Regions from separate parts of the Homo sapiens genome. Here region 1 is linked to region 2. The links come from fine-mapping of genetic effects on gene expression. A gene starts in region 2. The other region holds a variant in brackets. All regions are shown on one strand. Distances are between the middles of the regions. Region 1 overlaps OR10A6 (olfactory receptor family 10 subfamily A member 6 (gene/pseudogene)). Region 2 holds the start of ZNF214 (zinc finger protein 214).

What was found. PIP is the estimated chance that this variant, and not a neighbour inherited with it, causes the effect. A credible set is the group of variants that fine-mapping cannot tell apart.
Region 1: its variant is the best candidate, but not a certain one, in a credible set for the expression of ZNF214 in gastroesophageal junction (GTEx, PIP 0.78).

What each region holds. Positions count from the first base shown.
Region 1 is chr11:7,922,014-7,926,411 of GRCh38, forward strand. OR10A6 (olfactory receptor family 10 subfamily A member 6 (gene/pseudogene)) reads right to left here. Exons shown (of 4, transcript NM_001004461.2): 4 at 2,579-4,398. Among named protein-coding and RNA genes, the nearest start is that of OR10A6, 7.1 kb to the right of the region's middle. The variant C/T (reference allele first, on the strand shown) is at 1,819.
Region 2 is chr11:7,018,347-7,022,744 of GRCh38, forward strand. It overlaps ZNF214 (zinc finger protein 214), which reads right to left and starts at 2,000. Exons shown (of 3, transcript NM_013249.4): 1 at 1,727-2,000. It overlaps NLRP14 (NLR family pyrin domain containing 14), which reads left to right and starts at 2,133. Exons shown (of 12, transcript NM_176822.4): 1 at 2,133-2,424.

The DNA.
Region 1 (4,398 bases), 900 kb after region 2:
GAAGCAATTGTGAATGGGAGTTCACTCATGATTTGCTTCTCTGTTTGTCTGTTGTTGGTGTATAAGAATGCTTGTGATTTTTGTACATTGATTTTTGTATCCTGAAACTTTGCTGAAGTTGCTTATCAGCTTAAGGAGATTTTGGGCTGAGACAATGGGGTTTTTCAGATATACAATCATGTCGTCTGCAAAGAGGGACAGTTTGACTTCCTCCTTTCCTAATTGAATACCCTTTATTTCCTTCTCCTGCCTAATTGCCCTGGCTAGAACTTCCAACACTATGTTGAATAGGAATGGTGAGAGAGGGCATCCCTGTCTTGTGCCAGTTTTCAAAGGGAATGCTTCCAGTTTTTGCCCATTCAGTATGATATTGGCTGTGGGTTTGTCATAGATAGCTCTTATTATTTTGAGATATGTCCCATCAATACCTAATTTATTGAGAGTTTTTAGCATGAAGGGTGGTTGAATTTTGTCAAAGGCCTTTTCTGCATCTATTGAGATAATTATGTGGTTTTTGTCTTTGGGTCTGTTTATATGCTGGATTACATTTATTGATTTGTGTATATTGAACCAGCCTTGCATCCCAGGGATGAAGCCCACTTGATCATGGTGGATAAGCTTTTTGATGTGCTGCTGGATTCATTTTGCCAGTATTTTATTGAGGATTTTTGCATCAATGTTCATCAAGGATATTGGTCTAAAATTCTCTTTTTTGGTTGTATCTCTGCCTGGCTTTGGTATCAGAATGATGCTGGCCTCATAAAATGAGTTAGGGAGAATTCCCCCTTTTTCTATTGATTGGAATAGTTCCAGAAGGAATGGTACCAGTTCCTCCTTGTACCTCTGGGAGAATTTGGCTGTGAATCCATCTGGTCCTGGACTCTTTTTGATTGGTAAGCTATTGATTATTGCCACAATTTCAGCTCCTGTTATTGGTCTATTCAGAGATTCAACTTCTTCCTGGTTTAGTCTTGGGAGAATGTATGTGTTGAGGAATTTATCCATTTCTTCTAGATTTTCTAGTTTTTTTGCATAGAGGTGTTTGTAGTATTCTCTGATGGTAGTTTGTATTTCTGTGGGATCAGTGGTCATATCCCCTTTATCATTTTTTATTGTGTCTATTTGATTCTTCTCTCTTTTTTTCTTTATTAGTCTTGCTAGCGGTCTATCAATTTTGTTGATCCTTTCAAAAAACCAGCTCTTGGATTCATTAATTTTTTGAAGGGTTTTTTGTGTCTCTATTTCCTTCAGTTCTGCTCTGATTTTAGTTATTTCTTGCCTTCTGCTAGCTTTTGAATGTGTTTGCTCTTGCTTTTCTAGTTCTTTTAATTGTGATGTTAGGGTGTCAATTTTGGATCTTTCCTGCTTTCTCTTGTGGGCATTTAGTGCTATAAATTTCCCTCTACACACTGCTTTGAATGTGTCCCAGAGATCCTGGTATGTTGTGTCTTTGTTCTCGTTGGTTTCAAAGAACATCTTTATTTCTGCCTTCATTTCGTTATGTACCAACTAGTCATTCAGGAGCAGGTTGTTCAGTTTCCATGTAGTTGAGCGGTTTTGAGTGAGATTCTTAATTCTGAGTTCTAGTTTGATTGCACTGTGGTCTGAGAGATATTTTGTTATAATTTCTGTTCTTTTACATTTGCTGAGGAGAGTTTTACTTCCATGTATGTGGTCAATTTTGGAATAGGTGTGGTGTGGTGCTGAAAAAAATGTATATTCTGTTGATTTGGGGTGGAGAGTTCTGCAGACATCTATTAGGTCCGCTTGGTGCAGAGCTGAGTTCAATTCCTGTGTATCCTTGTTGACTTTCTGTCT[C/T]GTTGATCTAGAAAAATTTTTTAAAATTTTTTTTGCAGGGAAAATGCTGTGCATATAATTAGCAGTGCTTTTTATGACTTGATAAAATTCAAAACACCTTAAACATCCAAAAATAGGGAATGAGCAAATAAATAATTTTCCATGTTCTGATGAAAAACTATGTTTATGAAAATTTTGTGGTAACATAAACAATGTGTAAGTCACTAACTTAAATAAAATACACACTTGAATAATCTTATGATCCAAGTTATATAAAAAGCAAGATTTATCTTCAAGAAAAAAAAACACTTGGAACTCAAATTATGTGCAGCTTTTCATGGTAGAAATTTTTTTTTCTGCTTATTTTCTTTGAGAAGCATGTATTGGAAAAAAGTATTAACTTTTATATTTGAAACAAGCTTGCGTGATTTGCTTTCTGTTTCAAGTTTACTTGGAACATCAGCCACCTCTAAGCATCTTTGGTGAAGGGGGTTATAAAACCTTTAAATCTGTCCATATTATGGGTTGCTATTTGCCTGGATTTTCTGGAAGAAAACTGTAACTCTATTTCACTTCTAGGATATTATTTTTCTTGTCAAACTTTATTCATGACTACCAGTATTACAGCTCCATAATTTCTTTTTCAGATCTAAACAGAAAAAAATATAATTTAAAATTTTCTAACCTTAAGCTTAAATATATTGTGGAGAAAGATGCCAAATTATCCACTACATGTAAGTTTTCTTAAATTTATTTTTTTTTTTTTTTGTAACAATAACAGTCTGGATTGGGTTATGCTGTAACAGAAAACCTAGCAAATACTGGATTAAACAAAGACAAGGTTTATTTCTCTGAAGTAACAGTCAGTAAACAAATAGGCAGGAGAGGAATGATAAGGTCACTACGCAATGCCGTCACAGACCCAGGGGCCCTCTAGCTTTCCACTTGGCCTCTGTAGGGCCTGGCTTTTCTAGTCATGCTTTAACTCTCATTGCAAGATAGCTGCACTATCTCTAGCCTCATGGCTTGTTTCAGGTAGAAGGAAGGAGGAGGTTGAAGAGCAAAAAGTCCTTATTAACTAAGTCACATTTTTAAAGAGTTTTCATAGACACCCTACTCAAGGATGTCCACCTATATATCACTAGTCAGAACTGTGTCACAAACCACCCTTGTTCAAAAGAGAAACTGGGAAATTGGTTATTAACTGGATACATTACTGCCCTTAAGAAACTTGTTTTTTTTTTCTACTTAAAGAACAAAAATGGGGTTTTCTCTATTAAAGAAAAAGGAGAATGGGCATAAACTAGAAAACTAGCAGCAGTAGCAGCCACGGTGACTATAACTAAAAATCACCATGAAGAATAGTATGCAGAAATGATATGATTAGGCTATTATGTGTGAAGCATACTAACAATTTCTATTCATCAGAATAACATAAAAATTTTAAACTATGACTAAATTTACTAGCGATTATTTCTATCTCCTCACATAACATCACAAATGTATAAATTCCCAGCACATACTTGGATTCACACACGCATATACACACACACATACAAATTTAGAATTAGAGTGACCTAATTTCTTATTGTAATTTCATGAACATCTTGCCAATCCAGGCTTTATTTATCACAAAGGCAATGAAAGAGGAAAGCGTCAAATATAGTAACCTTCCAGCATCTAATGACCAGTACACTGTAAATCCTTCAAGAGCAGAGACTATTTCATTAGATTTAGCTCTCTTAAGACATTTTTATAAAGAATTTTTTTTAAGAAAAAAATTGGTTTACAGAATCAATGAACAAAATGAACTAAAGAATGGCTAAAAAGACTTTCTGTATTTAGCTTCCTTTGTTTGTTTCTTTGCTGATTTGTTCGTTTTACATAAGTCTTACTTAATTGGTTCTTTTAAAAGCTATCAGAAGGAAATTTCAGGATATCAAGAGATGGGATCCAATCAAAGGCTTTTGCTGAGGGCTGTTTGGTGCCCAAATGAAAACAGTATTATACAACATTCAGATATCACTGATAGCGACAGGAGGCAGCCAAATGCCTAGGCAGATGGGGTGGGTTCCTGGTGAAACCCCACCTCTAAACAAAAGACAGTTTAAAGCCTGAAAGCCAAACTGCAAGTTAAACTCTGGGACCGGATTGAGAACTTATCTTCCCATTTCACATACTTTCCTCTGATTGTTCCCCGCTCTTCACCTATTTTACATATACCTACCCTTTCCTAATTGGTTTTTCTACACTGTCATGCCCACCTTTGAGTGGTGTCTTCACTTTAACCTTTTTGCATACCTCACAAACCAGCATGTACTTCCCATTTTGAGTCCCTAAAAGGTCCTGGACCCAGCCACCATGGTGGGGCTTTCCTGCCTTCCAGTAGGGGAACCACCCCCCATATCCCCTCTCTGCTGACAGTTGTTCTGTCCTTCAGTAAAATTCTTCTCCACCATCCTTACCCTTCAATGCCCAGCATATCCTCATTCTTCTTGGGTGTGGTACAAAAGCTTGGGAACTGCTGAATGCAGGTACAAGCTATAACAGAGGTGAGCTGGGGCATGCCAGGTGGGCTGTTGCCGGTCAGGGGTCCCCAGC
Region 2 (4,398 bases):
CTATTTAGAATATCTTCCTACTCATAATTGTTCAAATCTGAGTTTCTGTTGCTGTGTTTTAAGTGCCACTCATTCTGGCACTGTTTAATGTCGATAACTTCAGAAATTATTATTAATCTCATATAGTTTATTACCCCCAATGTTAAGACTTTTTTTTTTTTTTTTTTTTTTTTGAGAGGGAGTCTTCCTCTGTTGCCCAGGTTGGAGTGCAGTGGTGCCATCCTGGCTCACTGCAACTTCAGCCTCCCGGGTTCAAGCAATTCTCCTGCTTCAGCCTCCTGAGTAGCTGGGATTACAGGTGCCTGCCACAATGCCTGGCTAATTTTTGTATTTATAGTAAAGACGAGGTTTCACCATGTGGGCCAGGCTGGTCTCAAACTCCTGACCTCAAGTGATCCGCCCACCTTGGCCTCTCAAAGTGCTGGGATTACAGGCGTGAGCCACCGCGCCTGGCGATGACATTCTTATAATTCTTTATCTCAGAACACCAAGAACAGCATGAATTATACACTAGACTTGAGTGACTGAATGAATGAATGAGTAAATGTTGGGAAAAGACACTGGGTTGGGGCAGGGTCAAGTCTGCACGCTCGAAAATTTCACAGGCAAGCGAGGAACGTTTTCTGTCCAGTCATCCATCCATCCTCATTGCCACCTCCACCACCCATGGAGAATGCAGGGACATTTTGTAAATGAGAAAAGACAATCATCCTCACTTGGGATCAGACTATGAGGGAAACAGTGTACATTCCTTCCTCCTTTGTGTTCCTCTTCTGGGGAAGGGTAGAGTGCTGAGACGGCTGAGCTGAGGAGGAAGGCAGACTGAAAACCTGGGTATGGCTTTAAATTCCCAAATTCATTAAATTTCCCATATACTAACTGGGTATGACGCACACATCTCCTAGCAAGAGGTCCAAAAGAAGCCTATGAATGCTCTTGTTTCCTTTCAACGACCAGAAAGGAGAGCTATGAACACTGGCACCTTGAAATTTATTTCCAACCCTCTAGAAACTTCAAAAGATACAACTCACTTATTTATTGAGATTATTATTACTACTAACAATAATAGGAAAGCACCAGCACACTTAAATAGTATCTATTCTCAAGGTATTTTTCTTATTTTGTTCAGTTTAAGTAGAAAATCATTCCATTGTCCTCCCCTACTTGCTAAACAGGAATACTGGATTTACTATCAGAAAAGTACCTGGAGTCTTAGAGAAGTATCCCAGAACTGGAGCTCCCAGGTCCTGATCAAAGTCTCAACTGTGCCATCAAGCACTTGTAGAACTTTAAAGAGGACCAAACTTATAGATCTCCAAGATCTCAGTTTCCTTACCTGTAAAATGGGGGCATGAGCCTTTGCCACCCCAGTCCTTCCTTGCTGATCAAAGGTAGGTTCCTGGGCAAAGTAATAAGCAATTAGTTAACCCTCTTTCTCTAGGGAAAAAACGTTTCATGCGTGCCCCAAGAGCAGGACAGGTTTGGGCTCCCCCAACGCGTCACGGGCTGCCCAAGTGTAAGCACCAGAGAACCAGACACACGAACGGTTCTCTAGGAGCGGGATCTCCCGGTCTCCGCCACAGACCCGGGGGTCCCCTGCTCCTGCACTGAAGACGCGCGCGGCCTCCGTTGCTTATCCAGATCCCCGGCCAGAACTCTGCCCCGGCACCGAACACCGGGCACCCATACCCCGGGGCCCAAGCTGCTTCTGCCCTCCTCTACTTGCCTTTATTAAGTCTTAACGTGGGAGAGAAGCCGTGATGTACCCATCTACACGGGTGTCTCTGGGGTTTCTAAACCGGAGTAGCTTCTCAGTCCCTGACCCTCGATTTTCTGCCCCTCTTCCTTCAAGCACAGCTCGTCTTGCCCTGTCCGCTTCTGGCTCAGTCCTCCTGAGAGTTCATGTCACTTAACGGAGCCTGTGAGAGTGGACCGGGATGGCCAAAACACTCAGTCCACACAAACAATGGCCGCAGCCCGGCTGGACCGAAACGGAAGTCCCAGGTCTTGGAGTAGACACTCGCAGTGTTTCCATGGATACGGGAGGGGCGGGGCGGGAAGAGAGAGCGCGGGAAAACGTGACTCCTGATTGGCCAGAAGTATCCCGCGCCTCCCGACCTTTGGCCGCTGGCATTCCTGCGCGGGCGGGAGCTGCGGGCGCTCGGGGGATAAGGCGAGGACGCACCAGCATTAATGGAATAGGAGAACTCCCGAAGCTTTTAGGGCCCTGGGAAAGGGGGCGTGGCTGGAAACGGAGCTACTGGCTTCGGAGAATTCTGTGACCCTCACCACCGCGACGACCCCGAGGAAACGCTGTCAGGTCGCCTTTGGTTGGCAAGGCGTGGTTGTCCTCGCTGTCCCGCGCCTTGGCGGAATGGGCACCTCACTAGCCCTGGCACTAGCTAGCATCGCTCTAAACTCAAGGTTAGAGGTTTTCAAATTCCGTCCTATTGTTGCCAGACACCCTCTTCGTTCCTGGTCCAGTGAGGCTTTCCTCCCTCCCGCCTTCTTGCCAAATCCCAGGCTCCTCTGGAGACTCCAGGCAGAGAAGGGAAACGCACAGTGGAGCTGAAATGAAGCCATGAGAAGGAGCCCCTCCTCAGTGTCCTGGGACCACAGAGAGTTGCAAGAGCCTGTTCTATTATTTAGCTGAGTGTGTTATATTAGGAAAATACTTTCGCATCTTTGGGCCCTGTCCTTCAAACTTGGGCTGGATCAGTAATATTCAAACATTTTATTAGGCAAGGAACTTTTGGTAGGATAGTCATTACAAGCAAGGGACTCCTTGGATTCAAATCTGACAACACCACTTACGAGATCTTGGCTGGATTACCTAACCTTTAAGCATCAGCTTAATAGGCGTAATATTGATAGCCAATAATAATAGTAACTATGTAACAGACTTGTTAGATTGAAATGAGTTAGTGTAGTTAAAATGCTTAAACCAGCCCCTTGCACATAGGAAGTAGTCTTGTGAACTATATATTTACAGTTTGGTGTTTAGCAGGGGTGGGTGGCCCAGCGCCTATCTGCTTGAGTTCACCACACAATAAGCTCTTGCATTTTTTATGACTCTGGAGACCACATTTTGAAAATTACTGGGCGTGGGCCTTCCCTGGTTTGAACATTCAGAGAGCATAGCATAGCATTTTAAAAATGTGGGCTTTGTTGTCTGACGGAACTGACATTAAGAGCTGTCAATCATTGTTATCCACTAGGTGGTGGTAAGCAAGTTGTTTAACCGCTCACCCTTAAGTATTTTCACCTGTAAATTGCAATGTATTTATTTATTTATTTTTTATTATACTGTAAGTTTTAGGGTACATGTGCACAACGTCCAGGTCAGGTTTGTTACCTATGTATACATGTGCCATGTTGGTGTGCTGCACCCATTAAATCTGTCTCTGCATTCAGTAATTCAACTATCAATTGCGGCTATTTAAATACATTAAAAAGCAATGTATTTAAATAGCCGCAATTGATAGTTGAATTACTGAATGCAGAGACATTGACCGGTAAGAACGAACACTGGAAGTGGGCTGTTCTGCCACACTGCTTCCAACCTGAGAATATTACCTGAACCTCATTGAACTAACCAAAATTAAAAGAAAAAAAAAAAGCTAAGAGGATCCAGTTTTCAGAGAAACAAAATGTGTATCTGAAGGAATATACCTGCTAAAGGGCAGAGGCCAATATGAATAACAAAGAGCACCAAGTATAGCATACGCAAGACTTTTAGGAATGAATTCTACCCAGTTACAGTTTGGGGTTTAGCAGGGGTGCCCGGCCTAGAGCCTATCTGCCTCCGTCCACCACACAGTGAGCATCTGCATTTTTTATGACTCTGGAAGCTACATTTTGAAAATTATTGGTCATGGACCCTCCCTGGCTTGAATGTGCAGAGACCCAAAGCACCAGCTTTGATGGGGGTCCTGGGAGCAGTCACCAGATGCCTAGAGATGTACCCAGGGTAGGAGTGAAGAAACTGCCTTGCATGGGAAGAGAGGGATAGCCCAAGTTCCTAGTCCAAGATGTTGCAGATTCTTCATAGCAAATAATTGAAGAATCTAAGAATATGACTGTGGCTTGAAGGCATAGAATTTTCCATAATTTTGGTTAATGTCACATAACTAAGAACAAAAATTGGAGTCAAGTCTGACAAGACAGCAAGGGATTTAGGGGCCAAGATCCTGATGAAAAGGGAATCTTTAAGCAGCCAACCTAAAACTTGGTGGTTTTCTCTTCAAACATTAGCAGAATTCTTAAGATGAACAGGGAAAGAAGATAAGAAGAAAGCTGTTGAAGTGCACAGAAAATTTTCAGAAGTCTCATCACAGATCGGAGGAGATAAAGATTATAGTTCAAAACCCATCAAGGAATAGATACCCAACTAGAATT